Linked DNA regions of Homo sapiens. The protein of the gene in region 1 interacts with the protein of each later gene in a pairwise test. Each region holds a gene or a part of one and is shown in the gene's direction. Other genes may lie near its edges.

Region 1 (7,032 bases):
CGAACTCCTGACCACCTCGGCCTCCCAAAGTGCTGGGATTACAGGCATGAGCCACCACACCCAGCCCAGCATCCCCTTTTTATCCCAGTTGTTCATTGACTGCTTTTTTCCCAAAGGGGAGAGGGAGGGAAGGTGGGGTTACTTGTAGCTCTCCTCCAACAAGATCTAAATCAGGCAGGCAGCCCCAGCAGCCTGGTGGGGTGGTCTTGGGAGAACAGGTAAGGTTAGTGTGTGTCTTTCAGGCTACCCAGTGTGTTGGTAGGATTTCCCCTTCCTAGCTCAGTAATTGGAAGGATGGGTTTAAAGTGGTGATTGCACATCACTTTGTTAGAGGGGATTGGTAGTGTTGGGGTAGGTAGGCTGCCTGGTTAGGCGGCCTTCACTGCCCCTGAACGAAGCCACACATGAGCTGGGTTTTACTGGTCTCTGAGCCCCTTTGTGCTGGTGCAGGACTGAGCCTGGCGCTTGGATGCCTGGTGGCCTCCTCCAGCCGGCCCCAGGCTCCACCAGTGAATGGCAGCGTCAACGTCTCATTTAAATAATGGTAGTACAGGGAATAGCTTTTAAATGGTTATCGTAAAACATATGATTAACGTCTGTGGACTGTTTACTTTTCCTCTGCGAACATTCTTTCAAGTGTGCAAATGGCTCGATGTAGGGTCCAAGCCCAGCTAATCTGTTTGGTTTTTGTAATAGAGAGAAAGCAATGTCTGCATGAAAATGTCACCCAGGGAGACTTAATTTACAGATTAAAAGCTTCCTGAATGAATTTTTTAAAAAATGAAGTCGTTTTCGTCCACGAACATGCAGCCCGTTCCCTCCATTACTCTGTTTTAATTCTGTGGTATTGTGCCTTTTGCCTCCCACTTCAATGGCATACATCAATTCCTCTCTGTCAGAGTGGACTACAGGATGTGCTCCTGTGGAACTGGCAGATGTGCGGTGGCACGTACTTGCAGAATCCGCTCATGTGTGCCTTGTGAAGCTCTTAGCCCCTGCGACGCACGCGGTGCCCATTCAGCAGGTGGGCTTAATCCCCACAGACGACTCTGTCCTCTAGCGGATGAAGTTCCAGAATGGAGTACACAAGCCTCCAACACCTCCTTGTCTGTTCAGCTCTGACTCTGCCTTAGATAAGATGCCAGATGGCATTTGATCAGTTTCTCCAGCTCATCCAAATAGAGGCAGAGACATTTTAGAGGAGTCACCATTTTTGAAAAAAGGCAAGGGTAGTAACTTTTCAAATGCCACAGCTCAAAAAGTGTGTTAGAAATCAGAGGAGTAGCTCTTGTGCAGGTAAGGCATGAAACTCCGCAGGGTGAAGGGCCAGAGTTGTAAGAGCAACAGGGATTACCATTGCTTCATTCTCCACCAGGTGCTGAGCCTTTTTGATGTTGTTTCTTTTAAACTTGAAACAATCACACCAGTCACATGAGGCACAAATACCCAAGATGGCATATCTTGAGTCTACTCAGTATACCAGTCCATTTAGAAGGAGATAAACTAATTTTTCAAACTGAGGCTGAGGGAAAATGAGATGAAACCTACCAACAACTCAGGATTTATAATCATGAATGAACCTTGTGCTAGGATTCCAGAAGAGATGCGTCTCTTCCTCCTTTCCCTGTTCCCATCCCCTAATGGATTGCTCTTTCCTTCTCTCCCTCCTTTGTACCTAAAATGCTGCTTCTTCCCTCAGGAATCCCACGGCCTCCGCACCCTCCAGATATATCCCCGTATTACCCACTATCGCCTGGCACCGTAGGACAAATCCCCCATCCGCTAGGATGGTTAGTACCACAGTAAGGAGTTCCATTTTTTAATTTCCTTTTTGTTTCTTACATGGGCATGTTTATTATTTATTCTGTGTGTGTGTCTGTGTGTGTGTGTGTGTGTGTGTGTGTGTGTGTGTGTATGTGTGTGTGTTAGAAGCCAGGGTTGGGGAGGGGGCTGCGGGAGGGCACAGAAAAGGTGTTGCTGAGGTGTCCTGTGGGAATACAGGCAAATCCACAGCCATTCAGGTGGCTTATGTTACTGGCACTTAGCATTCCGCGACCATGGTCCCCAGAGGCTCTGTGGACAGAGGTGCCCTGCAGTTCCTTTGGGAATTGCAGAAGACTACTGGAACTTCCACCCAATGAAGCTGGTCATGACCCTTCTGCTGTTGGCTGCCCAAACTGCAGTCATGTCATTGGGTTGAGGCTGTCGAGTCCTCCATTTTAGGTGTTACATATTTTGGGGCACAGAAGCAGGAACAAGAACGGCCTTGTTTTGAAATCCAGGGTTGGGATTAGGGCATGTTCTTGTATGATTCCAGGACCCCCCACCTCATCCTGAACATTACTCCCAAGGTTGACAACAACAGTGGAAAGTTTTGTCTGTTGAGAAGCTCCATGGGACTGAATCAGCATCTCTCTGAGAGTCTTTGCACGTTGAATGTTTTACCTAACTGTGAACGGTGGGAATGGGGCATTTGGAACCGTCACTGCAGCATGTGGGGCCTTCGTAAGCATCAATCCTAGCTCCTGGCAGTGCCCAGATTATTTGACTAACTTTTGCAACTTAAAAAAACTGTGTTTTAAATTCAGAGTAGAAAGGCCTTTGATGCATTAGCATACTGTGGCAGGTTGTGTGTATGTATATTTTTGCATGAGCATGTGTGTAATATGTGTTTCGTGATTGTTTCTGTGGATGTATTTCTCCTTACCAGTGATCTGTACTCTGAACAACACAGGACAATACATTGAATGCTAAAAGGAATAAATCCTGGTAAAACTCAGGTTTGAGTCTTAGGGAAGATGGCCTTTCAAAGCCTTAAGGAAGATAAAATTTTGGAGTGGCTTACCCCACAATTCTACCCGTATTTCTCTAGTTAGATAGATTCTATGCTGTTTTTTTTTTTTTTAATAAAAAACAGATTGCATTATGTAGTAGCTGTACCAAATACCAACCCTGGGTATAGTTTCTGTTTCTCTGTCTCTTCTTATTTTTATTGGGACGGTAGACATGAACATGAGCTTGTGACCCATTTCTTCTAAATAGATGGGGCCAACCCTCGAATAGTTCTCAGTGATCATTTGCCCCATTCGGCTGATGGGGAGATATTTGAAGGCTAGATAAAAAGGAATAGCCAACTCAGACAACCCTCTGTCAGAAAAAGTTGTGTGTCTTTCATGAGGATGCTATTTTGCATGTTGCTGTATTTTTTAATTATTGTAATGAGGTGTGATTGTCTATTGGTTACCCACAATTCTTCTTGGGGACTCTCCCCCCGGTAACTCTTGTCAACACTTGTTAATTTGACAAAAGGCTACAAATTAAGCTCTGTTAATTTAATGTTTTCTCACCGAGATCTAAATACCGAAAGAGGCCCAAAGCGCAACTGAAGTCCTTTGATTCACTGTACTTTATTTTGGTATAAATTTACATTCATTATTGTTTTCCTTTGGATGTGTAGCCCTCAATTAGTGTGATGGCTCCATTAAAGCAAGCGAGACTTCGCCTTTAATTATTACAACAAAACACCTAGTTTCAGCTTGGGGAGAGGGTCTCTATTGACATAAGCAGAGGTTATAAAATTTAATTAGCCATTCCTATCAGATTTATGGCATTCAAATTGTTCTGTGTTTCTTCCCTTTGATCCTTCCTGTACAATCCCCAAGATTTTTGTTCTGATCAAATGAGAATAAAGCTTACTGTGCAGAGAGAACTTTTCCCTTTTCTTCTTTTTCTTGTCCCCACCCCCACCCTTGTTTCAAGTCTCTTACTTTGTACCCCTTCTTTGTAGGCAAGGTCAACCAGTGTACCCAATCACGACAGGAGGATTCAGACACCCCTACCCCACAGCTCTGACCGTCAATGCTTCCATGTCCAGGTGAGTTCCAAGAACCGGGGCCTTCATCCAAGGCCATGTGTGACTTCTCAAGAAGTTCTCTAGATGGCCACCAAGCCACCCAGGGACCACAGCTACATGTAGTTCTATTAGTGTAAAGCCAATGTGGCATTAGGCTGTACTCCCAGAAAATCCTGAAAAATTGCCCTGAAATTCCAAGGTAAATGATGTCTTTCTGGGTAAAATTTTTGAGTCACTCAGTTGAACAATGTATTTTAATGAATTAAGAAGGTAAGGGAGAAACAGGACAGAAGCTTTTAAAAATGCCATTTCTCTGTTGTCCTGTCCTCAGCAAGAAAGGTAGCGGTGAAGGTAGTTTTATTATTATACCAAGAAGAGTTCGAAAAAAGATTACTGGTGTTCTCAAAGCTCAGACTCTGATTGCAAGTCAACAAGAAAGCATCCGCCTCCTCCCCTCGAAGGTAGCACTGTCCAATAGAAATATAGTGTGAGCCACAGAGGGAATTTTAAATTTCGTAGTAGCCGTGTTTTTAAAAAAGTTTTTGTTTTTTTTTTTTTAAAAAAAAGATAAAGTTATTTTTAATGACATGTTTTTATTCAATGCAATATAGCCAAAATATTATCATTTTAACATGCTATTCCTGGACAACAACTATTAATAAGATGTTATGTTCTTTTTTGTGCTGAGCTTTGGTACAAAATCTGATGTGTATCTTATACGCACAGCACTTCTCAGTTTAGACTGGCCACATTTCAAATATTCAATAGCCACACGTGGCTGGTGCATATCATAGTGGTCTGTGCAGCTCTAAGTCTTTGAAAGTTAAAAAAAAACATGTGTGTGTGTGCTGTACATTCATATATATTTATATTTCAGCGTAGAAACATATTTACAAGATACATTCCTATCCCCATGTTCTTCTTTTCCTCCCTCTGATTAATTCTGGCTAATTTTTCAGTGACTGCTAGTTTATTTACAAACTGGTTGGCAGCAGTATGTTTTAGTCGCTAATTGTTTCTAATGATAGTTTTATTTTCTGTTCATCTGATTTTCAGTCAAGTTAATTAAATCGGTGGAGGTTTAGACTTTGCTGATGGTCTGAAATCACCAACCCATTCTGATGATGGCACATAATGAAATTAGCATGCGTTACATGGCAGGGGTGCTGTCCCCAGCTTCTTTCCCCAGTCCCTGTGGCCAACATGGGAAGCCAAGACCAGAGAAGGGCCTGGAAAGACAGGTCAAGATGCTGCTTTTCCTACTTACAAAACAGTAACTTTAGCAGTGATAGAGAGTTACATTCATTAAGAAAAACAAACCGTGGCATATCTAGCATCGGTAACTATGCCGTGGATATCATAGTTGAAGAGATCCATTTTCTACCTGCGATATATCATCAAAATTTCAAAATCCATGCCAGTATTAGTTAGGTAGGAAAACGCTCGTGTGTTCTCTGGCCTAGAGAGAAGAGGAGGCGTAACACTTATTAAATAGTGTCATCACAGCCTCGCAAAGCATGGGAATGAGTAGGGGGTCTCCCAGGTGGAGAGCACCCAGGGACCACGGCTACATGTCATTCTATTAGTGTAGCAGCTTATACTCCACAGCTCATCTTCCCACCTTCCCAGCATTTGTATATTACACCTGGTTATTTTTCATGTTTGTTTATTTGGTGCGTTCTGGAGGTTAACAGTGGTAAAGTAATTGTAGGATAGGGATTGGGGTTAAGCTGATCGATTGAATTATCATTAGGAGGTTAGTCGATGAATTATAGGTGGGCATGGGGGTGGAGGAAAGGCAGGGAACGTCAGGAAGAAAGGTTAGGGCCTCAAGGTGCGGGGAGAGGCGGCCGACTCCCCAGGTAGGCCAAATGAAAGATAGCTAGTTAAAAAGCATATACAGCAAATTAAATACATTATTGTGATAATGGGGCGACAGAAGTATAGGTCTATTATACTTATGGCAGTTATAGCAAATGTAGGCAGCTTGCCCTGTTCCAGAACACCCTTTGATATTCATTCTATTCAGCAGTGGGGCCAGGACTTCTCAGAATTAAGTGATGGGTCATTATACTTTAAACACCATGGAGAAGCCTAGATTGGCAATTAAACAGCTCTTGCTGACACTCACTTGTGCCACCCTGTGACCCCCTTTAGATTGAGATGTTGGAGCTCCGGGCCCTCAGCCTGCTAAATTGGTGCAAGGCTCTTCTCCTGACGAGAGCCGGCTCTGAAATCTGCCGGCTTCAAAGGGAGCGAGATCATGTATAAACCATAATGTGGGTGCACCGTGGCTCACAAAAAATAAGGCAGGAAGAGATGAAATGTTACAAGTGCAAGGGGGAAAATGAGAGAATAATGACAAACCTAATGCAACTCAAAGCAGGATTGTTGCACAGGAAAATGCATCCTACTGCTTGTGCATAAAATCAAGGCCGGCAGATGACATCCGGTTAACAGAAACGTGTCAACAGTGAAGTAAAGTGAGAGTGAGTAAGAGAGAAGCCCCTGAGACAGCCAGAAACAAAAATTAGTTGTTCTTAACAAGTTAAGGTTCATCATTATATTCTGGCTTGGAGCCATGAAAGCAGACGGGGGTATATAATGAGCTGCTTAGAATTTTTAGGGTGTTTATTGCATTTCATGAAATAGTAGTCTGCAGAAAGGAATTTCTTAAGCGAAGGTATGTGTATACAGCCCACATCCATGTTCACACATGGTCTCTTTCTTTGCTGAACATTTTTCAGATATGGGAATATACGCGTAGGTATGGGAACTTAGAAATGTGCCTTCTTCATGGCTGCATTAGAAGTTTGTCTGCACCCCAAAATGTACTCAGATTGTGGTGCCTTCCCGTGGTATTTGGTGTATGTACACACACGTACACACACACACTCACACATGCAGTGTTTTTCTCTCTCCCCCTCCCTCTCCCTCTCACGTCTGTACACATATTCTCATTCTGCAGGAAGGGAACATATGTATTTGAGGAATGTCAGGCCTTCAAAATTCACAGTAAAAGCTGCCACCCACCACTTCACCCAAGGGCTTCCAAGAACACATGTTCTTAACTTCTGTTTCCTCTGAGGCCTTCGAGCAGTGGGAAGGAACAGGGTGTCACTTGGAGCCCAAGTGTCTCCCAAGGGGTTTTGCTTTTTTTGTTTTTCACATTATTTTGA
Region 2 (7,971 bases), on another chromosome or scaffold:
GGCACTGAATGTGGCATCAGGGTGCTAGTGTATGAGGCCCAGGACTGGGCTGCAGTCTCCTGCAAGGCAAAGGTCCTGTCCAACTGCGTTTTGCCTCGAGGTGCTTGCTCCTGGCCTTGCTGGAGCTCATTCCAGATCCTGATCACGCCCTTTCCCCTTTCTGGGCCTCAGTGTTCCCATCTGTAAACTGGGGACTACTGCCAGTCCTGCCTCCTCGCAGACTGGTTCTGAGGCCAAAGGAGAGCAGGTGGTGGGTGCACCTTGACTATCACAGGACCCTCCCGAATGACCCTGGCAAGTCCTTCCTGACTCCCTGCAGATTTGAAGAGTTTACTGATTTCCAAGCCCAGGGCTGCTTAGCAGGATTTACCAAACCCAGCTCCCTCTCCCCATCACAATAGCTCTTTCCTCTGTATCTAGATGCTAGCTCTTCCCATTACTCAGCCACTAGGAGGAGAGTGCTGACATGCTTGGCCAGGTGATGCGTTCATGCCCCACATTTTGAACCAGAGCAGACTTTTAACCCGGGTCTGGCCCTCTCTAGCCTGGCTGACCTCGGACAACGTTCCTCTTTGCTTACATGGGCATAACACCTACCACATATGACGCCGTGGGGATTGAATACCATGAGCAATGCCCATGTGCGGCGCCTGGCACAAGGTAAAGCCTCAGCACCCCCAGCTGTTACTGTTCTTCCCATTTTACCCTCGGGGACCAAGGCTCAGGGGAGCGTGGACACCAGGCAAAAGTCTCAGACCGCACAGGCAGCATCTGGGTCCTAACACCCTCACCACCCTGCTCTCCCTTGCTCCTTCTCCCTCCCCTCCAAGTCTGGAACTTTCCAAAAAGGAAGAAAGATCTCTGTAATTTGAGAAGCACATTTGTGCTCCCACACATTCTGAATCCTTCCAGAGAGGCTGCCCAGGATAGATGACCCCAGAGCTGGACTCTCTGGAGCTGGACCCCCGGCCTACAGGAGACAACCCCTCAACCCAGATATATTGCCATTTTTCATTAACATTTCTCGCTTATATATTCAGAGATCATTATCTGAAATCAGGATGCAGATGAGTCCTAGTTTACTCAGCAGCATTTTCTTTCTGTTTCTTCAAACAATCGATCATCAATCACAATGATGCCCCTCCCCTCCTAGAGGGAATCCTTAATCCCCCTCCCGTGAAATGGAGTGGTTAGAATGACCTCCATTGACAGAAGAGGAAATTGAGGCTCAGTGAGGGGCATGAATGTCCCCTTTGAGTTCTAGGGCACTGGGCAGGAGATAGGTTTCACCACGGGTCCCTCTGGACAGGGGATTTAGGGCCAGGCTGGGAGAAATTTTCAGTTCTAGAAGAGAGTCCTCTGCTCTCTTCGCTGGACTAGGCTCCTGTGTGATTCGGGATATGGGGAACAGAGGCCTCCTGGGAAGGAAACGGGGTCCCTGGCAGTGTCCGCTGAGGCCCAGTTGCTACTCAGGAAAGGGTCTGCCCACAGGAGGGCGGCCGGCTGGGGGCGAAAGTGAGGTTCTGAGAGGAATGGTCAGACAGGCAATCATCGAGACCCAGCTCTGGCCGCCCTGTGATGGTTGCTGGAAACCCCGCTATGAGCTGACTCCACGTGGAGGTAGGTCACAGCCAGTCCTTACCTCCCCCAGGCAGCCTGTGGGCGAATTGAGGGATCAGGACAGCATGGACTGGCTTGGAGTCCTAGTAAGCTTTGAATATGAGAACTGGACATTTCACAGATGGAAGTGTGAGGCCCAGAGAGAGGAGGGGTGGGTCAAAGGCCCCCAGCAAGGATTGAGAGGTCTTATTTTTTCATGACAGTGATGGCTCCCGGAGGCTGGAGCACCCTCCATGTGCCAGGCCTGTGCTAAGCACTTTACACACAATTCTATGAAGGGCCACTATGAGTGCCCCACTTTACAAATGAAAGAAATGAGGCTCAGAGAGGTTTAGGCAACTTTCCCTAGAGCGCTGTGGGTGAGGGAAAAAGACACGCTCAGGCAGAGGGACTGTGGACCCCAGCTCCTTCCATAGCCCATGGACCTCTTAGGCGGTTTCCCAGGGCACACCTGCCCCTTGTCTGGTATACCTGGGGATCCCTGCCCAGGCGCCACAGAGTCCACATGAATCACACCTGCCCTGGGAAGGCGGCACCCTCACTGCCAAGAACGCACTTAGAGAGCACTCCTAAATGCCAGAGGGAGACGAATCCCCTTCCTGGGGCAAAGGAGCTGGCTCTATTTGCCCGGGGATGGGTTCTGGGTTTACCCAGCTCTAAGTCAAGGTAGGGTAGGGGAGTGTCCTGACCTTCTGCTTCCTAGCCCTGCTGTGGACAACTTAGGGTGCTCTTAGGTGGGGGCCACTGGGGAGAAACTGGCCTGTTTGTCCATCGATCTGATGGAAGAGGGAGAAAAGACGACGGTCCATGCCAACTGGGGAAGGGCGAGGGTGTCTGCATGCCCCAGGTGGGGGAGTCGGAGTTCTCCCTCCCATCAAACAGACGACAATTTTTGTCGGTCCGGGATGGGGAGGAAGCAGGTGGAAATTGGGAACAAGCTAGCCTGTTCTGTGGGTCTTCCCCGGGTGCCTGAAAACGCGAAGACAGAAGGCGTCCATCTTATCAGAGGTGAGGAAGGCGGCCTTGGTTTGACACAAAGCCATCGGTTTGTCTGAGACCTGGCCGCATGGATGGCAAGGAAAGGGCAGCTCCTCGGGGGCGGTCGCCGCGCCTGCACCCGGGGCCGCAGCTGGCGCGCATCTGTAGCCCGGCCGGGCCCGCACCTCCGCGGCTGGCAGGGCGCGGGCGCCAACTAGCGGCGGCTCCCGCCACTGTGCCTGCCAGGCGGCCCCGCGACCTTGGTCTGGGGACCCAAGGGCCTGCACCCGCCCCCCCTCCCCCCGCCGCCCTGGTCCCTTGGATCTGGTGCCCACGGGGAGCCAGCGCCCTACGGAGAGCCGGAGCCGTGCCGGGCCCTGCGCCAGGTGCCAGGGCCCACAAGAGTCCCTCATTCTCTGGAAACTTGTCTGTGAACCCATCGTAAGCGGAGAGGGAGAAATCAGGCGGAGGAACAAGCAAAGGGCACGGTGCAAACCGAAACCATTCGACAAATGGAATTTACCACCACCTGAAACAGCGGGTCATGGTCCCGCAACCTGCTCGAGGGCAGCACGTGTTGCCCGCCCCCGGCCAGGGCCCTACCTGGCCACGACGCGCTGCGCCTTCTCGGAGACGTTCCCGGAGGTGGGAGCGCCCAGGCTGGATCACTCGCTTTCCTCTAGTTCTGCTGCTCGTGCCAGCGCGTCCGAGGGCGCGCGGGCCTGGGTCCGCAATCGACAACTGCCAGGCGCAGGCTCTCTTAAAAGGTTCAGTAAGGGACCTTTGCCGTCCTTCCTTTCGACACGGCCTGAGGGCGTGCTGTGAGGTCCCGAGGTGGGTAGGGGCCAGCTCTCCCGGTGGTCGGGGTGAGTCCAGAGTCCTTCGCCCCTGGAGCGCACGCGGGGCTTGATTTCGTTTGGCAACGACGAAATGGCGCGCGCTGAGCAGGGGTCAGATCCATGATGAGATCTTGCGGCCACCGTCGGATCCTAAGCTTCTTTGCTTCCGAGGCTTGGAATTCATTGTTTTGCACCTGTCGAGAGCCGGAGGCAACGAAAATCTAGCCCCGTCTCCAAAGCGGCGGGGAGGCTCAGCACGCGTTCGTTCCCCAGAGTCTAGGGAGGTGTCTGGGGCGATAATTCGGAATGATTGTGGCTTGATCTTTCCCGTTGCCCTCCCAACTGTAGCCGGCCCCTAGGTCTGCTCGACAGACTTAGGAGGCGGGAGAGGAAGGGGTGATTTGCAGTGAAGCCCAGGAGAGGTTGGGCCACGCGGCTGGGAGTGGGAGCGGGGACCCGGAGCCGGGCGGGCAGGCAGTGCCTTGGCGAAGCTGTCCGCGGTCCCTGCGGCGCAGCCGGAGCGCACGGGCCCAAGAAGAAGTGGGGTTGGACCCGCAGAGGCCACTTTCCACCCGCATGGAGAAAGAAAATTCTCTCCTCTGAAAGCGAGGGCCCTTAGCTTTGCAGCCACTGCTGTTTTTCTTTTGCCACCGACGCGCGTACCGTTTCACGATGCAGGACCGTGGTTACATGCGTAAAGGAAAAAAAGAAAAACGCATTTTGCAGGCCTCGTCGTGTTTTTCAAAGAGCCACAGGCCGCCACAACGAAGAACGACGCCGCGAGGCCTGCAAGATCCTGAAACTTGTTTTGAGGGGAGAGCAGAGAGGAAAGGGGTTGTTGGCCCCAGGCTACTTAGGGTCCCTAGGAGACTCCCTTCCGCCTGTCCCCGGTTTGGCACAGGGGCCACCGAGGCTGGGACCAAAGCCGCGCAGGGCTGGGAGCAGCAAAGGCCGCCGGCCGGGCGTGGACGACGCGCAAAATCCCGTGTGGGGTGGAGGCTCTTGGGTCAGAATAATGTGCGGGACGAGGGAGGTGAGTAACCTCTTTGGGGCGGCTCCCAGTGCGGCGTCACCGGCCCTGAGACCCCGCGGCCCCCAGCCCGGGGTTGCAGAAGTCACAGGCCCGAAGCAGCAAGAGCTGGGGAAGCCCGGCCGCGGCCAGCGGGGAGGAGGAGCGAAGGGGTTGCGCCCCAGCGTCAGGGAGCTACGACCCGAGAGAGGGCGGCAAGGGCGCCTTCCGTGGGACCCGGACGTTCTAAGCAAATTTCTAGCATTTGCCCCGGGCTCCCAGAGCTCTCGGGGGCCCTGGGCTGTGGCACTGGGGCCTCCTCCGCGGGGTGGCGCCTTCCGCCCCTCCCCGTTGGGCGGCCTCCGGCAGGCCCCGTTCCTCCCCGCGAACGCCACCGAGGTGCCCGCGATGGGGGCTCCGCCGATTGGCTGTGCGACGCGTCGCTCCGCCAGCCCCGCCCCGCGGGCCCCGGGGGTACTAACCCCGCGCGGGCGGCCGCGGCCCCGCCACTTGATTCTGGAGGATTTGTTCTGGGGCTGCGGCCGCGGAGTCGGGGCGGCCGCGGGCGAGCTTCGGGGCGGGAGGCGGCGGCAGCGGCACAGCCCCGCGCGGGCCCCGCCGCGGCCCAGGCAGCCGGGACAGCCACGAGGGGCGGCCGCACGCGGGGCCGCGCGCCGAGGATGCGGGACTAGCCGGGCAGGCTGCGGGCGGCCGTCGGGCCAGCGAGGCCTCGCAGCGGGCGGGCCCTGGCGAGTAGTGGCCGGGCGCCGCCCCCTGCGCCCTGAGGCCCGGGCCCCGCCGCTTCTGCTTTCCCGCTTCTCGCGGCAGCGGCGGCCGAGGAGGCGCCCGCGCCGGCCGCCCCCGGGGGAAGCCGCGCCGTCTCCGCCTGCCCGGCGCCCTGACGGCCGCTGTTATGCGTATTCCCGTAGACCCAAGCACCAGCCGCCGCTTCACACCTCCCTCCCCGGCCTTCCCCTGCGGCGGCGGCGGCGGCAAGATGGGCGAGAACAGCGGCGCGCTGAGCGCGCAGGCGGCCGTGGGGCCCGGAGGGCGCGCCCGGCCCGAGGTGCGCTCGATGGTGGACGTGCTGGCGGACCACGCAGGCGAGCTCGTGCGCACCGACAGCCCCAACTTCCTCTGCTCCGTGCTGCCCTCGCACTGGCGCTGCAACAAGACGCTGCCCGTCGCCTTCAAGGTGAGTGCGGGACCCGGGGCGGGAGGGCGCCGGCCCTGGGGCTCCGGGCGTCTGAGCTGCGGGAGCCAGAGCCTCGGGAGCAGTGGGGATGGGAGGTGCCCGAGACGCCGCGGCGACACCCGGGCACCCGGTTCAGTCTGGCTGCGCGCTCGGCTCCGGGACCTCGGCGTTCCGTTTTGGATGCGCCCTGCAGGAATGACTTTTAACGGGGTTGCCCCGCTCCACCTGGGTTTTGGGGCGCCTTGCGTAGAGACGTTGGTGCGGAAATGGGCGGATGGGGTTTTGCGCCCCCCTAACCCGGATCGCTCAGATACAGCCCTGCGGGTAACGGAGAAGAGGATCCCGGGACAGGGGCAAGGACACCGCGGGTGGGGTGCGAACGGTGAAAGGGCCTACCCTCCGCCTCCAGCACCCCTCCTCCCGCGCCGCTTCGCAAAAGCTTCCTGCTCACACCCTCGGGCTTCCGAAATTTTACCGGACGGCGCTAGGCCGGGATCGGGGCACTGCTCTCCAGACGTTTGCTCGGGGATATTATGCGTCCCGAATGGCGAGTTGAGATTGGGGGACCCCTAACCCTGGCAGCCCCCAGCCATTTAGAGGACCTTTTTCTTTATGCCAGGGAGTAGGCGACTGTTTCATTTTCATTTTTTTAAGGGGGCAGCGAGATGAAACGAAAACGCCTCGGTTTTCCCCTAAACCTCTCACAGCTGCCGTGAGAAAAGGGCAGGGCAGGAAGGGCCGGCGGCTGGGGGTGGTGCTGCCCGAGGTGGCTGGAAGCTGAGGCCGTCCCTGCTCCCATTAAGACGACTCTAAATGGGAAAAAAAGGAAGAGTGGCTCTTTGAGGTCTCCCGGGTGACATCTTAAAATACCAGTGGGGGAAATCTCGCCGGGAGGGGCGGGAGGCCCGTGTGACTTTAATCGTCAGATCGGAGGTTTTACTGTCACTTGGAGCTTAAAAGGAGTCTTTGAAATTAAAAGAAGACAGGATGTTGACAGGAAATCTGGTCTTCTTAATCAGATCCCAAACATTTTCTCCTTGAAATTTTTACCATATGGATCCCCAGTCCCTGCACGCGGCGGCCACGTTTAAATAGTTGTGACTCTGTTTAAAGTCTGATTCTTTTTCAAAAGGCATCCGCCTCTCCGTGCTCCTGGGGGTGGGGGATTTGGGGGAGATGGTGTTTAGGGGGACATCGCCACCCCCATCCTGCAATTCCCGGCAGGTGCATCCTTCCATTATCAAAAGCCCCACTCTCACTTTAAAGGGGTTTTCTGGTGGCCTTTTTCAAAACACCAGTGAGTTTTGCATTCTGCATTTTCTCTGCATAACGAATTTAGGCTCTGCAGAGGCCAATAAACTGGGCCTGGTCCACATTTCAGGGCCAAATTTCATGCCCTAAACAGCTCTTGCATAAATTGAGTGGGGGTAGCAGCCCTGTTGTTATTATTGTTGTTACTCTTTCTCATTTGGAGACTTCGTTGCTAGGAGCATGTTGATTCCTCTTTCGCTGCAGCCGAAGACAACAGGGGAACTGCACCCCACATCATAGTGACTGAGCTGATTCACAGCTCTGGCTTAGATTTCATTGAAAGGATGATTTCTTGGGACACAGTTTATGTAAGCAGTTGATCTAGGATTTTGGTGTGGAAGCTCGAGATTCCATCTTCTTGTTTTCGTGATATTTGGGGGAAGGTCTTTATTGTTTTTAAGCCTCTTCTCCACCCTGCATTGGAGAAATACTCAGTGTGCCTGGGACCTGGGGGAGCTGCCCAGCCCAGCCCCTCCCCTCCTTTCCCTGGTCACCCTCTTCCTTTCTAAGCTGTCCCCCTGCATCCCCCCGCCCCGTGTCTTCAGGTGGTGGCATTGGGGGACGTGCCGGATGGTACGGTGGTGACTGTGATGGCAGGCAATGACGAGAACTACTCCGCTGAGCTGCGCAATGCCTCGGCCGTCATGAAGAACCAGGTGGCCAGGTTCAACGACCTTCGCTTCGTGGGCCGCAGTGGGCGAGGTAAGTGGAAGGGAGGCCTCGCCATTTCAGCATTGGCAATGGCAGGGGCAGCAGGGAAGGAGGTTGAAAGAGGGGCCTTAGAATCCCGAAAAACAGGTCTCCAGATGCAGCTCTGTCTAAAAACAGCAATTTGTAATCCTGTAGGATATTACAGATCGCTTTGAGGAGGTGAGGAAAGTTATGGTCTCTTGCCAGAAAAAGACAATTTTCTCCCAGTTTCTAGGGTTTACCAACTCCTGAAACCGTTCATGCCACCCCCTCTTTCCCGGTTAAGCACACCTGGTCTCACAAAAAATGCTGGCAGGAGATGGTGGATT
Region 3 (3,593 bases), on another chromosome or scaffold:
AGGAAAACTCAGAGACCCTTTCCTAGGGAGCCCCTTTTCCCTCCTACCTCAGGTGCGGACGAAGCCCTGGCCAGGCTCCTTCTGTCTCTCATGCAGCTCCCTTCTGTCTCTCATGCGGCTCCCTCCTGTCTCTCATACGGCTCCCTTCTGTCTCTGGAGAGCGGCTGGGACGGGACTGGGAGCAGATGAGAGGCTAAGGTCCCTATGAGGCCGCAGCTCTTGGGCACCTGGCCGTGCCCTCACTGGACGCTGCCTGCTGTGTCGAGGGGCCATGTGCCCAGGGCTCCTGCCTTGTGTCCCCCTCAGGTGCTGATACCTGTGTTCGCGCTGGGCCGCGCCCAGGAGCTCTGCATCCTCCTGGAGACCTTCTGGTAGGTGCCGCCAGGACGGCTCTTTAAGGAGCCCCTGGCCCGGCCTGAACACAGTCCAGTTGGTGGGCAGCCCTGTCCAGCGTAGCGGTGGCATCTTGGCCCTGCTTGCTGCTGTCCTGGGGGGCCGCTCGTGTGCTGTGTGACCCCAGGAAGCCTGTGACATCCCGTCAGCGCCACCGTGTGCGGCTCTTGTAGGGGTTCCTGGTTCTCCGCTGAGCCCGGCTGCTGCAGGGCTTAATGGGACAAGTGGTCGCGACTGGACTCAACCTGGCCCGTGCGTGGGCTGTGCAGACACGGGTGTTGGGGGTGACCCGGCCGAGTCCTGCCCTGCAGCATTCTCCCCTGTGGCCACTGTGCTGACTGGGCCGGTGGTCCCCAGGGAGCGCATGAACCTGAAGGTGCCCATCTACTTCTCCACGGGGCTGACCGAGAAGGCCAACCACTACTACAAGCTGTTCATCCCCTGGACCAACCAGAAGATCCGCAAGACTTTCGTGCAGAGGAACATGTTTGAGTTCAAGCACATCAAGGCCTTCGACCGGGCTTTTGCTGACAACCCAGGACCGATGGTGAGGCCCGCGGCAGGGCCGGCCAGCACATCCACACCCGTCGGTCTCCTGTCTTCCGCAGGTGTCTGGGCTTGGGCCTGCAGTGGGGGTGGGGGCATCTGCTGCCCTGACCCCCCACCTGGCCCTGTGTGTCCTGTAGGTTGTGTTTGCCACGCCAGGAATGCTGCACGCTGGGCAGTCCCTGCAGATCTTCCGGAAATGGGCCGGAAACGAAAAGAACATGGTGAGGGCATGGTGAGGTGTGGGAATCTGGAAGCTGGAGGCCGACGGGTTGTCCTTCCACCCATGCTGTCTCTGAGCTCTCACTGGCTTGGCCTCGTGCTGGCCAAGGGACGTGGCTGCTGCTGCTGGGGAACGGGGGCGATGTCCGCCTGGAGCTGCTCAGTCTCTGTGACACAGCTTGTCCACCTCGGGCAGAACAGCCCCAGCCCAGCCCTGGACAGTCTTGTGCCAAAACCTGAGCCCTTTGGAGTCTGCAGCTAGGCTTGGTCGGGCGCCGCTGGCAGGTGGAAACAGCTTCCAGGGGTTCAGGCGGGGGCATCCCGGGCAAGGCCTTGAGGTGCCAAGGCTGGAGTTCCCTGGCTGTGAGCTCTGTGCCTGCCCCCAGGTCATCATGCCCGGCTACTGCGTGCAGGGCACCGTCGGCCACAAGATCCTCAGCGGGCAGCGGAAGCTCGAGATGGAGGGGCGGCAGGTGGTGAGTCTCGACCCCGCACTGGGCTGGCAGGGCCGAGGGGCACCTCCTGGTGGTAACCACTGTCCACGCCCCGTGGCCTCTGTAGCTGGAGGTCAAGATGCAGGTGGAGTACATGTCATTCAGCGCACACGCGGACGCCAAGGGCATCATGCAGCTGGTGGGCCAGGCAGAGCCGGAGAGCGTGCTGCTGGTGCATGGCGAGGCCAAGAAGATGGAGTTCCTGAAGCAGAAGATCGAGCAGGAGCTCCGTAGGCAGCCGGGCGGGCGGCGTGGGGCCCACCTCGGGTCAGCACGGGCAGCCTGGGCTGAGGCTCTCTCTTCCCCCGGGGTCCAGGGGTCAACTGCTACATGCCGGCCAATGGCGAGACGGTGACGCTGCCCACAAGCCCCAGCATCCCCGTAGGCATCTCGCTGGGGCTGCTGAAGCGGGAGATGGCGCAGGGTATGCGGGCTGGGCAGGGCAGGGCAGGGTGCTCGGGGCAGGCGGCTGGGAGCGGCCCTCACATTGATGGCTCCTGCCACCTCCTCCGCAGGGCTGCTCCCTGAGGCCAAGAAGCCTCGGCTCCTGCACGGCACCCTGATCATGAAGGACAGCGTGAGTGCCAGGACGGTCTCTGGAGGGGGGAGGGCCGCTGCTGCGCTCACTGACCTGTCCCTGCCCCACAGAACTTCCGGCTGGTGTCCTCAGAGCAAGCCCTCAAAGAGCTGGGTCTGGCTGAGCACCAGCTGCGCTTCACCTGCCGCGTGCACCTGCATGACACACGCAAGGAGCAGGAGACGGCATTGCGCGTCTACAGCCACCTCAAGAGGTGGGCGCCCGGCCCCGCCCCCCCCCCACTCCCTTGGGCCCTGGAGGCCAGGCAGGGTCTCACCGAGCCTCCCCACAGCGTCCTGAAGGACCACTGTGTGCAGCACCTCCCAGACGGCTCTGTGACTGTGGAGTCCGTCCTCCTCCAGGCCGCCGCCCCTTCTGAGGACCCAGGCACCAAGGTGCTGCTGGTCTCCTGGACCTACCAGGTAAGGGGTGACCCCCACCCCACCGCGGTCAACACAGGTATCAACATTCCTCCCTGTCCTGCACCACCCACAATGCTTTTGCCTCTGCCCTAGGACGAGGAGCTGGGGAGCTTCCTCACATCTCTGCTGAAGAAGGGCCTCCCCCAGGCCCCCAGCTGAGGCCGGCAACTCACCCAGCCGCCACCTCTGCCCTCTCCCAGCTGGACAGACCCTGGGCCTGCACTTCAGGACTGTGGGTGCCCTGGGTGAACAGACCCTGCAGGTCCCATCCCTGGGGACAGAGGCCTTGTGTCACCTGCCTGCCCAGGCAGCTGTTTGCAGCTGAAGAAACAAACTGGTCTCCAGGCTGTCTTGCCTTTATTCCTGGTTAGGGCAGGTGGTCCTAGACAGCAGTTTCCAGTAAAAGCTGAACAAAAGACTACTTGGTACTCTCTTCTTGGTGTACATGGCTGTGTCCTGCACTGTGCCCCATCCCGCCTGGGACAGAGACGGGCATCCAGGGTGCTGGGACCCGGGCAGGGAGGCTACTGTGGAGACCAGGCAGCAGTGCTGTGGGCCCCAAGCAGCTGTGACTGCCCTGGCTTGACCAGCACAGGGTTGGGCCTGGTGTGGCCTAACTTTGGCTTGAGTGTCCAGGGTCATCCGTGGCTCCCGAACTGTGGCCCCTGCAGGGTGCAGGAGGCAGCACCTGTGGACGGACCAGACCCTGCGTCAGCCTGGGGCAAGACCGGCCCAGCACCCTCCCCACCGCTGAGACCACTCCCATGACCAGGGAGTGGGCCAGCCCAGGACGGGCTACGGGCTGGCCTGAGGGACTGCAGCCCTGGGCGGGGGGCTGCTTCACCCCCAGTTGCTGCCGTCAGTGGCCCCTGGCCCCCCACCCCATGCCTCGGCCACAGTAGTCACTGGGCACATGACAGGAGCTTCTCGTGCCTGTTT
Region 4 (6,771 bases), on another chromosome or scaffold:
CTAGGTCTGTCTCCCCTCACCCTCAATGTTTCTTGAAGGCAGGATCTGGCCTGAATCTTTTCTCTGTCCCCAGAACTCAGCACAGGGCCTGGCATGGGGTGGGTGGCAGGAGGGGGCTTGAGTGAGAGTACCTGTGATCTTATAGTCAACTCTGAGCTCATCTTACACAGTGGTGCTCAGTGTGGCTATGTATCAGGATTGTTTAGGAACTTACAAGCACTAATAACAAGTATTCATGTTCCACCTCTGGATGTTTTAATCTGGCATGGGGCCTAGGCCTAGGAAACCTGTAGTTTAAACCTGTCTCCTGGCCAGGCCTGGTGGCTGACACCTATAATCCCAGAACTTTGGGAGGCTGAGGCGGGCAGGTTGCAAGGTCAGGAGTTCAAGACCTGCCTAGCCAACATGGTGAAACCCCATCTCTACTAAAAGTACAAAAATTAGCAAGACATGGTGTAATCTCAGATACTCAGGAGGCTGAGGCAGGAGAATGGCTTGAACTCAGGAGGCGGACGTGGTTGCAGTGAACCAAGATCACCCCACTGCACTCCAGCCTGGGCAACAGAGTAAGACTCCATCTCAAAAAAAAAAATTGTCTCCTGATGACTCTGATGTGCAGAATCACTAAGCCTAGAAGTGCCTGGGCCACCAAATTGTATAGATGTGGCACTGTTAGATCCTCAGTGGCTTGGAGAGGTTACCTAACTTGATCAGGGTCACTCAACTCATCAATGGCAGGTCTGGGACTCCCAGCCCATCGTTCTGAGGTATTTTCCATGCCCAAACTAGGATGCAAGTTTGTTTAAAGTGGGGATGTCAAAAACTAGGATTTAACAGACTGTAAACCTAATAACACAACAGCTCAGCTAAGGGGAGTCATTTGCATGTGACCCCCTGATTGGTCAACACTGGTTGTACCCACAAAGTAGCTGGGCCTCTGGAGAGGGAGAGGCAGGTTCAAACCCTCAGGTTCTGCCCATGGGTCTCTGGGCTGTCCCTATTTGTTGCCAGGTGACTTATAGGAGTTTACTTCTGGGCCTCCCAGACGTGGAGAGTAAAAACAGGTGCCCTCGAGGGATATGGGGTGCTCCACCCTCTCCAGGGCCTCCCAAGGCCACTGGCTCACTGTGTAGCAGCAGGGCAAGGTGGAGGCTGTGGACCTCAACTTCCCCACCAATAAAATTGGACCTGAGAGCTTAGATCCCTCCAACCCCTTTTGGGCCTGGAGCCTGGATCTTGGCACTGCCTACCAGAAATCCCTATTGGATCACTGATGGGGAGGGAGCACCGTAGAGTTCACTGACTTACGACATTGCTTGTCTGAGCCTCTTGCATTGTCTTGGGACTATATGTTTTCCCTGACTTGAAACTGAACTCAGAGTTGGGCAACCTTAGTTCCAGTCTGGCCCTGTATTTGATTCACTGGAATGAATTCAATAAACATTTATTAGGTACCTGCCATGTTCCAGTCAGATCTGATTAGACCCAGTCTCTGCCCTCAAAGGCATCTCCAAGTCTGATGGGAGAGACACAGGGAAACAACGTGAAGACAGCATGATCGGTGCTGTGATGCAGGGACATCCAAGGGCTGTGAGTGTCCAGATGGGACCCCAACAGAACCTGAGGTTCAGGGAGAGTGATGCTTGAGTTGAGTCTGAAAGACAGGTTGAATGAGGTGAGAAGCATATCCCTAGCAAAGGAAAATGGCATGGAGATTTGAAATCACAAGGTGTGCTTGGAGACCTTCCCCTTACCACCAAACTTCTTGAAAGAGATGTCATGACATGGGGATTGCATCCTTCACCTCTCAGCCTTTCTTCAACCCTCCATAGCTTGGCTTTTCCTACTCAGCAACTCCTCTGAAAAGTTTTTTCAAGGTCACTCACAACTTCCAAGTTGCTAAAACCAGTGGCCTATTATCTTGGAATTGGCCAAAAGAATGGGCAGAAGAACACATTTAGAAGATAAAATCACGAGACCTGGTGGCTGATGTGTGGAAAGCAGATGTGTGAAGACAAGGGCAACAACCTGCTTTCTTTCCTTCTTTCTTTTTCTTTCTTTCTTTCTTTTTTTGAGACAGGATCTCCCTCTGTTGCCCAGGCTGGAGTGCAGTGGTGCAAACACTGCTCACTGCAGCCTCGATCTCCTGGGCTCAAGTGATCCTTCTGCCTCAGTTTCCCAAATAGCTGGGCCCACGGGCATGCATCACCACACTCAGCTAATTTTTTAATTTTTTGTAGAGACAGGTTCTTGCCATGTTGCCCAGACTGGTCTTGAACTCCTGCATTCAAGCAATCCTCCCGCCTCAGCCTCCCAAAGTGCTGGGATTACAGGCATAAGCCGCTGTGCCTAGCCTTTCTTGATTTGAGTGCATGGTGATGGCATGTACTGAGAGAAGCATTTATGGGGCTGGGTACTTTGGGAGGCCAAGGCGGGCAGATCACCTGAGGTCAGGAGTTCAAGACCAGCCTGGCGAACATGGTGAAACCCTGTCTCTACTAAAAATACAGAAAAATTAGCCAGGCGTGGTGGCAGGAACCTGTAATCTCAGTTACCTGGGAGGCTGAGGCAGGAGAATCGCTTGAACCCGGGAGGCGGAGGTTGCAGTGAGCTGATACCATGCCATTGCACTCCAGCCTGGACAACAAGAATGAAACTCTGTCTCAAAAAAAAAAAAAAGATTTATGGGAAAAGCAACAGTTTTAGCAGATGGAGAAATGTTGCAATCATCTTGAGATGAGTGGAGTTTGAGACACCTGGACTTCTAAGGGGAGCTGGACTGTTCAGGTGTGAATCCCAGTTAGAGAGAGATACAGGGTGGAATGGGGCTAAGAGGAAAGATCCAGAAGAGAAGGGGATCCTGACCCCTCTCCAGGTCTGCTCCCCCATGGGTAAAATGAGGGGTTTGGAGTTTCCATTTAATTCAGCACATAGTTCTTGGTTCCTGGTATGCACTTGGCCCTGCTGGTGACACAAACAAATCAGAGTCCTTGTCTACAAGCAGCTCACATTTGGGCTGCAAGAAAGGCCAGGAGAAAGGATAGCAACAAGAGGCACAAGCAAGATCCACAGAATTCAGGGAAAAAAAAAATTCTTCCTGAGACCAGGAGAGCTTCCTGGAGTGGAGTGGGTGACCGTTGAGCTAGGCTTTGAAGGGTTGGCAGAAATCTAATGGGAGAGAGGGGAGGGCAGGGAATGCATTCCAGAGAGAACACTGACCATTCTCTGAGCCTCAGTCCCCAACCCTATGGTCATGTGGAGCTAATACCTGCTTTAAGGATTAGAGGTGGTGTAACACACGTGATCACTTCCTTCAGGACCTGGTACATAGTAGGTGCTCAATAATCGTTACAGCCTAGTGCAGCCTAACAATTTTGGGTCAATGATGGACCACATATACAAAGGTGGTTCCATAAGATTATAATGGAGCTGAAAATTTCCTATCACCTAGTGATGTTGTAGCCATGATAATGTCGTAGGGCAATGCATTACATTTTCTACATTTATATATGATTAGTTAGATAACAAATACCATTGTGTTACAATTGCCTACAGTATTCAGGGCAGTAGCCTGCTGAACAGGTTTGTTGGCTTGGAGCAATAGGATATACCATATACTCTAGGTGTGTGCCACCTAGGTTTGTTTGTAAGTACACTCTATGATATTCACATAACTAAAATTGCCTAAGGACGCATTTCTCAGACTGTATCCCTGTTGTTTAAAAGACGCATAACTGTATTTTAGTTACTTCTCATCCCTATCCTTCCTTTCCCTTCCTTCCTCCCCAACCCCTGTTTATTTCCTGGGCCTGGGGCTTGGCCATGTTCCCCTCCTTGTGACTAGTAGAGCTGGGTCTTTCAAGTGGCATTATTGTAGAGCTGCTAGCAAATATTAGACTACCTATAAGGAGAAATTGGGAGCCATAGAGAATTTTTTGAGCTAGGTGGGAGGCCAGAGTTGGAGAATGGGTGTCACTGGGAGCTGGATGTAGGGCAGAAGTTTTAGAGGACCGTGGACCTTGTGGGGAGGGCAGGGCCTTTCTCCAAGAGCTTGCTAGTGGCTGGAGGCCCATTTCTAAACTTGGGGAGGTGGCTCCATGGATCCCAGAGAGGCCTGTGCCAGGCGTGGGGGTAGGGGACCAAATCCGGGCCAGGGAGTTCCTGGGCACCTGACATGGTTGGATTCCCCAGGTGCGCGTCTACAGCCCGTACCAAGACTACTACGAGGTGGTGCCCCCCAATGCACACGAGGCCACGTATGTCCGCAGCTACTACGGACCGCCCTACGCAGGTAAGTCTCCAGCGTGCCCCGGGGCTTGCCTCGATCCAGCACCGATTCAGCGCCAGGCCCAGCCCACGGTCCGTAAGTCCGGACCAGGCTTCATCCTTTTAGCGTGCACGGATTTTCCCAGGCAGAACTCTCCGCAAGCCCCTCTCCATCCTGAGACTGGGAGAGCTCTGGAACCAGCGTTCGTCTCGAGCTGACCTCACCCTTCTGGGATGGCTCCTCAGCCCTGCGGTCGGCAATACCCATTCCTGAGCCGGTAGCGGCCCCTGGTGGCTACTGCGGGAATGCTGCCTCCTCCCCGCTCTGGGGCCTGGCGGTTGGGAATGCCCATCGTTAGGCGCCTGGTGGTTGTGCTTAGCGATCTCAGGGTTTCCTCGCTGCTCCGCCCTAGCCTGCCGTAGCGGACCCGTAGGTTCCGGGACATCCGTAGCCGATCCAAGGCCTGGGAGCCGTAGGGTGGAGCTCTTCCCGCGTCTAGATCTGTTCTTTGACTGGGGAGCAGGAGAGTGGGTTCGGCGCCTTACACTGGGTTGGGCTGGAGTGATGCAGGAAGGGTACGAAGATCACTCTACTCCCTCCTAAGTCGCTGATCCTCATGGGCTGTCTCCCTCTGCAGGCCCTGGCGTGACGCACGTGATAGTGCGGGAGGATCCCTGCTACAGCGCCGGCGCCCCTCTGGCCATGGGCATGCTTGCGGGAGCCGCCACTGGGGCGGCGCTGGGCTCGCTCATGTGGTCGCCCTGCTGGTTCTGAGCCCTGGGACTCGGAGCACTGACCCCTGCGCTTGGATTGCTAGACTCCTCTTCCTCCTGGACCCCATCCTCTACCATCCAAGCCCTGTCCCACTTTGGCCCTATCCTCTCCATTAGCTCCTTCCGGGTTTGGACCATTCCCCCCACTCCCTACCCTTAATCCCCACATGGGAAGAAGCTATCATCACAGGTACAAACATCGCTTGAAGTCTTCACATCTACCACTAGACACCCCCAAAATCTGTTATAGACATTTATGGATACATTTCCTCTAAACACAACAGGGCACAGCAAATACGACTTCATTTGGCTTCGAGTTCCCCAGGCGCTGTAGACACAACATGAATCGGGCTCTCTGCTCTCTCCTTAGGGAGCTCGAGTCCTGGTGGGGAGAACAGGAGTAAACAAGGACTTGACAAAGCTGAAGAGTTATCAGTCCTTTGACAAGGACAGGTGGGGCAGGGAGCAAGACAGGTAGGCTGGAAGAACAGTTATTGGCAAGTATGCAGAGCCGTGAACGTCATGGCATGTCCAAGGAATTAAATGGGAGTTCATTTGGGCTGGGGTGGAGGCTGGGATCAGACCGTGGTGGGCCTTCAAGCTAAGGAGCTTCCTAGGTGAAAGGGGAGATGTGAGCCTTCTCTGGAGGGAAGTTTCATGATTGCATCTATAATGAATATATTGCCTGTTTTGTGAATACTGACACATGTCCATACCTAAAACACTCCTGAGTCAAGTCCCATCCTTCCCACAAACAGCTTCCTGGCTGGTACCCATGATAACAATTGAGCTGAACCTGGGGACCCCTGGTTGGGGAACAGGTGAGTTCTATTTGAGACTTCCAGCCCTAGAAAGCTGCCTCCGTCCAGAAATGCCTCTCACACCAGGAGCTCGGCCCTCTCTTTGTAGCTGTGACTGTCACCCTCTCAGGCTTTGTCTCATCCTTCATTCTGAATAAGATGGCAGTGTTCTCCTCTGGGGCCTGATCCACCTCTACACCAGCCCAGGAAGCCCCATCTGTGCCTGCCCTCAGGTGGTCCACCAGTCTCCCCCTTTGGTTCCCTTCCAGTCTCTTCCCCCTTTCTATCCCAATCACCAATAGAAATGCTAACATCCCTGCCTGGTAGCCAGACTAGCCCACTAAAGCTCCCCTGTAAATGGGGGCTCCATTAGTTCTGCTGCCGAGACTAATAAAGATTTGGTTGGCTCTAGCAGTAACTGTGGCTTGCTTTGTTCCCCCAGAAGGCCCTGTTTCCCTCTCCATGATCCAGCAGCTACTAGTGCCTTCACTGGTCTAGTGAAAAAGAGTGTGGATTCTGAGATCAGTTGGAACTGGTGACAGCATATTAGCTGAGTCATTTGGGGCAAGTCACTTAACCTTTCTGGATTTTGTTTTCCCTACACTTAAGGTAGCTGGTTGAAGTTGACCATTCCTGAGGGCTCAAGAGGAGGGACTGCCTTGGAGTCTCTGTTGTCTGAGCTGATGGATGATCCAAGCCAGGTCCTGCCTGCTTTCTGAGAATCCTGTTCATGTTGGAGTCTTTTCCAGTAGGTTCCCATCCTTCTAGAGTTGAATCAATGAATTGTTCTCATAGAAAACCAGGTGGTCAGGAAAGGAAACACCATCATCCTGCATCAGGCTTCTTGGGGCTGTCAGATAGAAACTCCCTGTTCAAACTGATTTAAGCCAAAGGGAAAAGGTTAAGCCACATAACTGAGAAGTCCAAGAGC

What was found.
Region 2: the proteins of TCF7L2 (region 1) and RUNX3 interact in binary tests that used the Homo sapiens proteins (3 or more experiments, as listed by UniProt).
Region 3: the proteins of TCF7L2 (region 1) and INTS11 interact in binary tests that used the Homo sapiens proteins (3 or more experiments, as listed by UniProt).
Region 4: the proteins of TCF7L2 (region 1) and PLEKHB1 interact in binary tests that used the Homo sapiens proteins (3 or more experiments, as listed by UniProt).

The regions. Positions count from the first base shown.
Region 1 is NC_000010.11:113,142,224-113,149,255, forward strand, and holds part of TCF7L2 (transcription factor 7-like 2), read left to right. Parts: intron 1-1,699; coding exon 1,700-1,802; intron 1,803-3,787; coding exon 3,788-3,874; intron 3,875-7,032. UniProt on the Homo sapiens protein: Participates in the Wnt signaling pathway and modulates MYC expression by binding to its promoter in a sequence-specific manner. Acts as a repressor in the absence of CTNNB1, and as activator in its presence.
Region 2 is NC_000001.11:24,927,257-24,935,227, reverse strand, and holds the start of RUNX3 (runt-related transcription factor 3), read left to right. Parts: upstream 1-4,951; 5' UTR 4,952-5,359; coding exon 5,360-5,641; intron 5,642-7,497; coding exon 7,498-7,654; intron 7,655-7,971. UniProt on the Homo sapiens protein: Forms the heterodimeric complex core-binding factor (CBF) with CBFB.
Region 3 is NC_000001.11:1,311,079-1,314,671, reverse strand, and holds the end of INTS11 (integrator complex subunit 11), read left to right. Parts: intron 1-306; coding exon 307-371; intron 372-750; coding exon 751-940; intron 941-1,079; coding exon 1,080-1,163; intron 1,164-1,547; coding exon 1,548-1,637; intron 1,638-1,722; coding exon 1,723-1,885; intron 1,886-1,971; coding exon 1,972-2,079; intron 2,080-2,105; exon of another isoform or gene 2,106-2,170; coding exon 2,171-2,232; intron 2,233-2,303; coding exon 2,304-2,446; intron 2,447-2,524; coding exon 2,525-2,654; intron 2,655-2,747; coding exon 2,748-2,813; 3' UTR 2,814-3,011; downstream 3,012-3,593. Other genes in the region: PUSL1 (tRNA pseudouridine synthase-like 1), read right to left, coding at 3,012-3,342.
Region 4 is NC_000011.10:73,656,562-73,663,332, forward strand, and holds the end of PLEKHB1 (pleckstrin homology domain-containing family B member 1), read left to right. Parts: intron 1-4,191; coding exon 4,192-4,291; intron 4,292-4,904; coding exon 4,905-5,041; 3' UTR 5,042-6,258; downstream 6,259-6,771.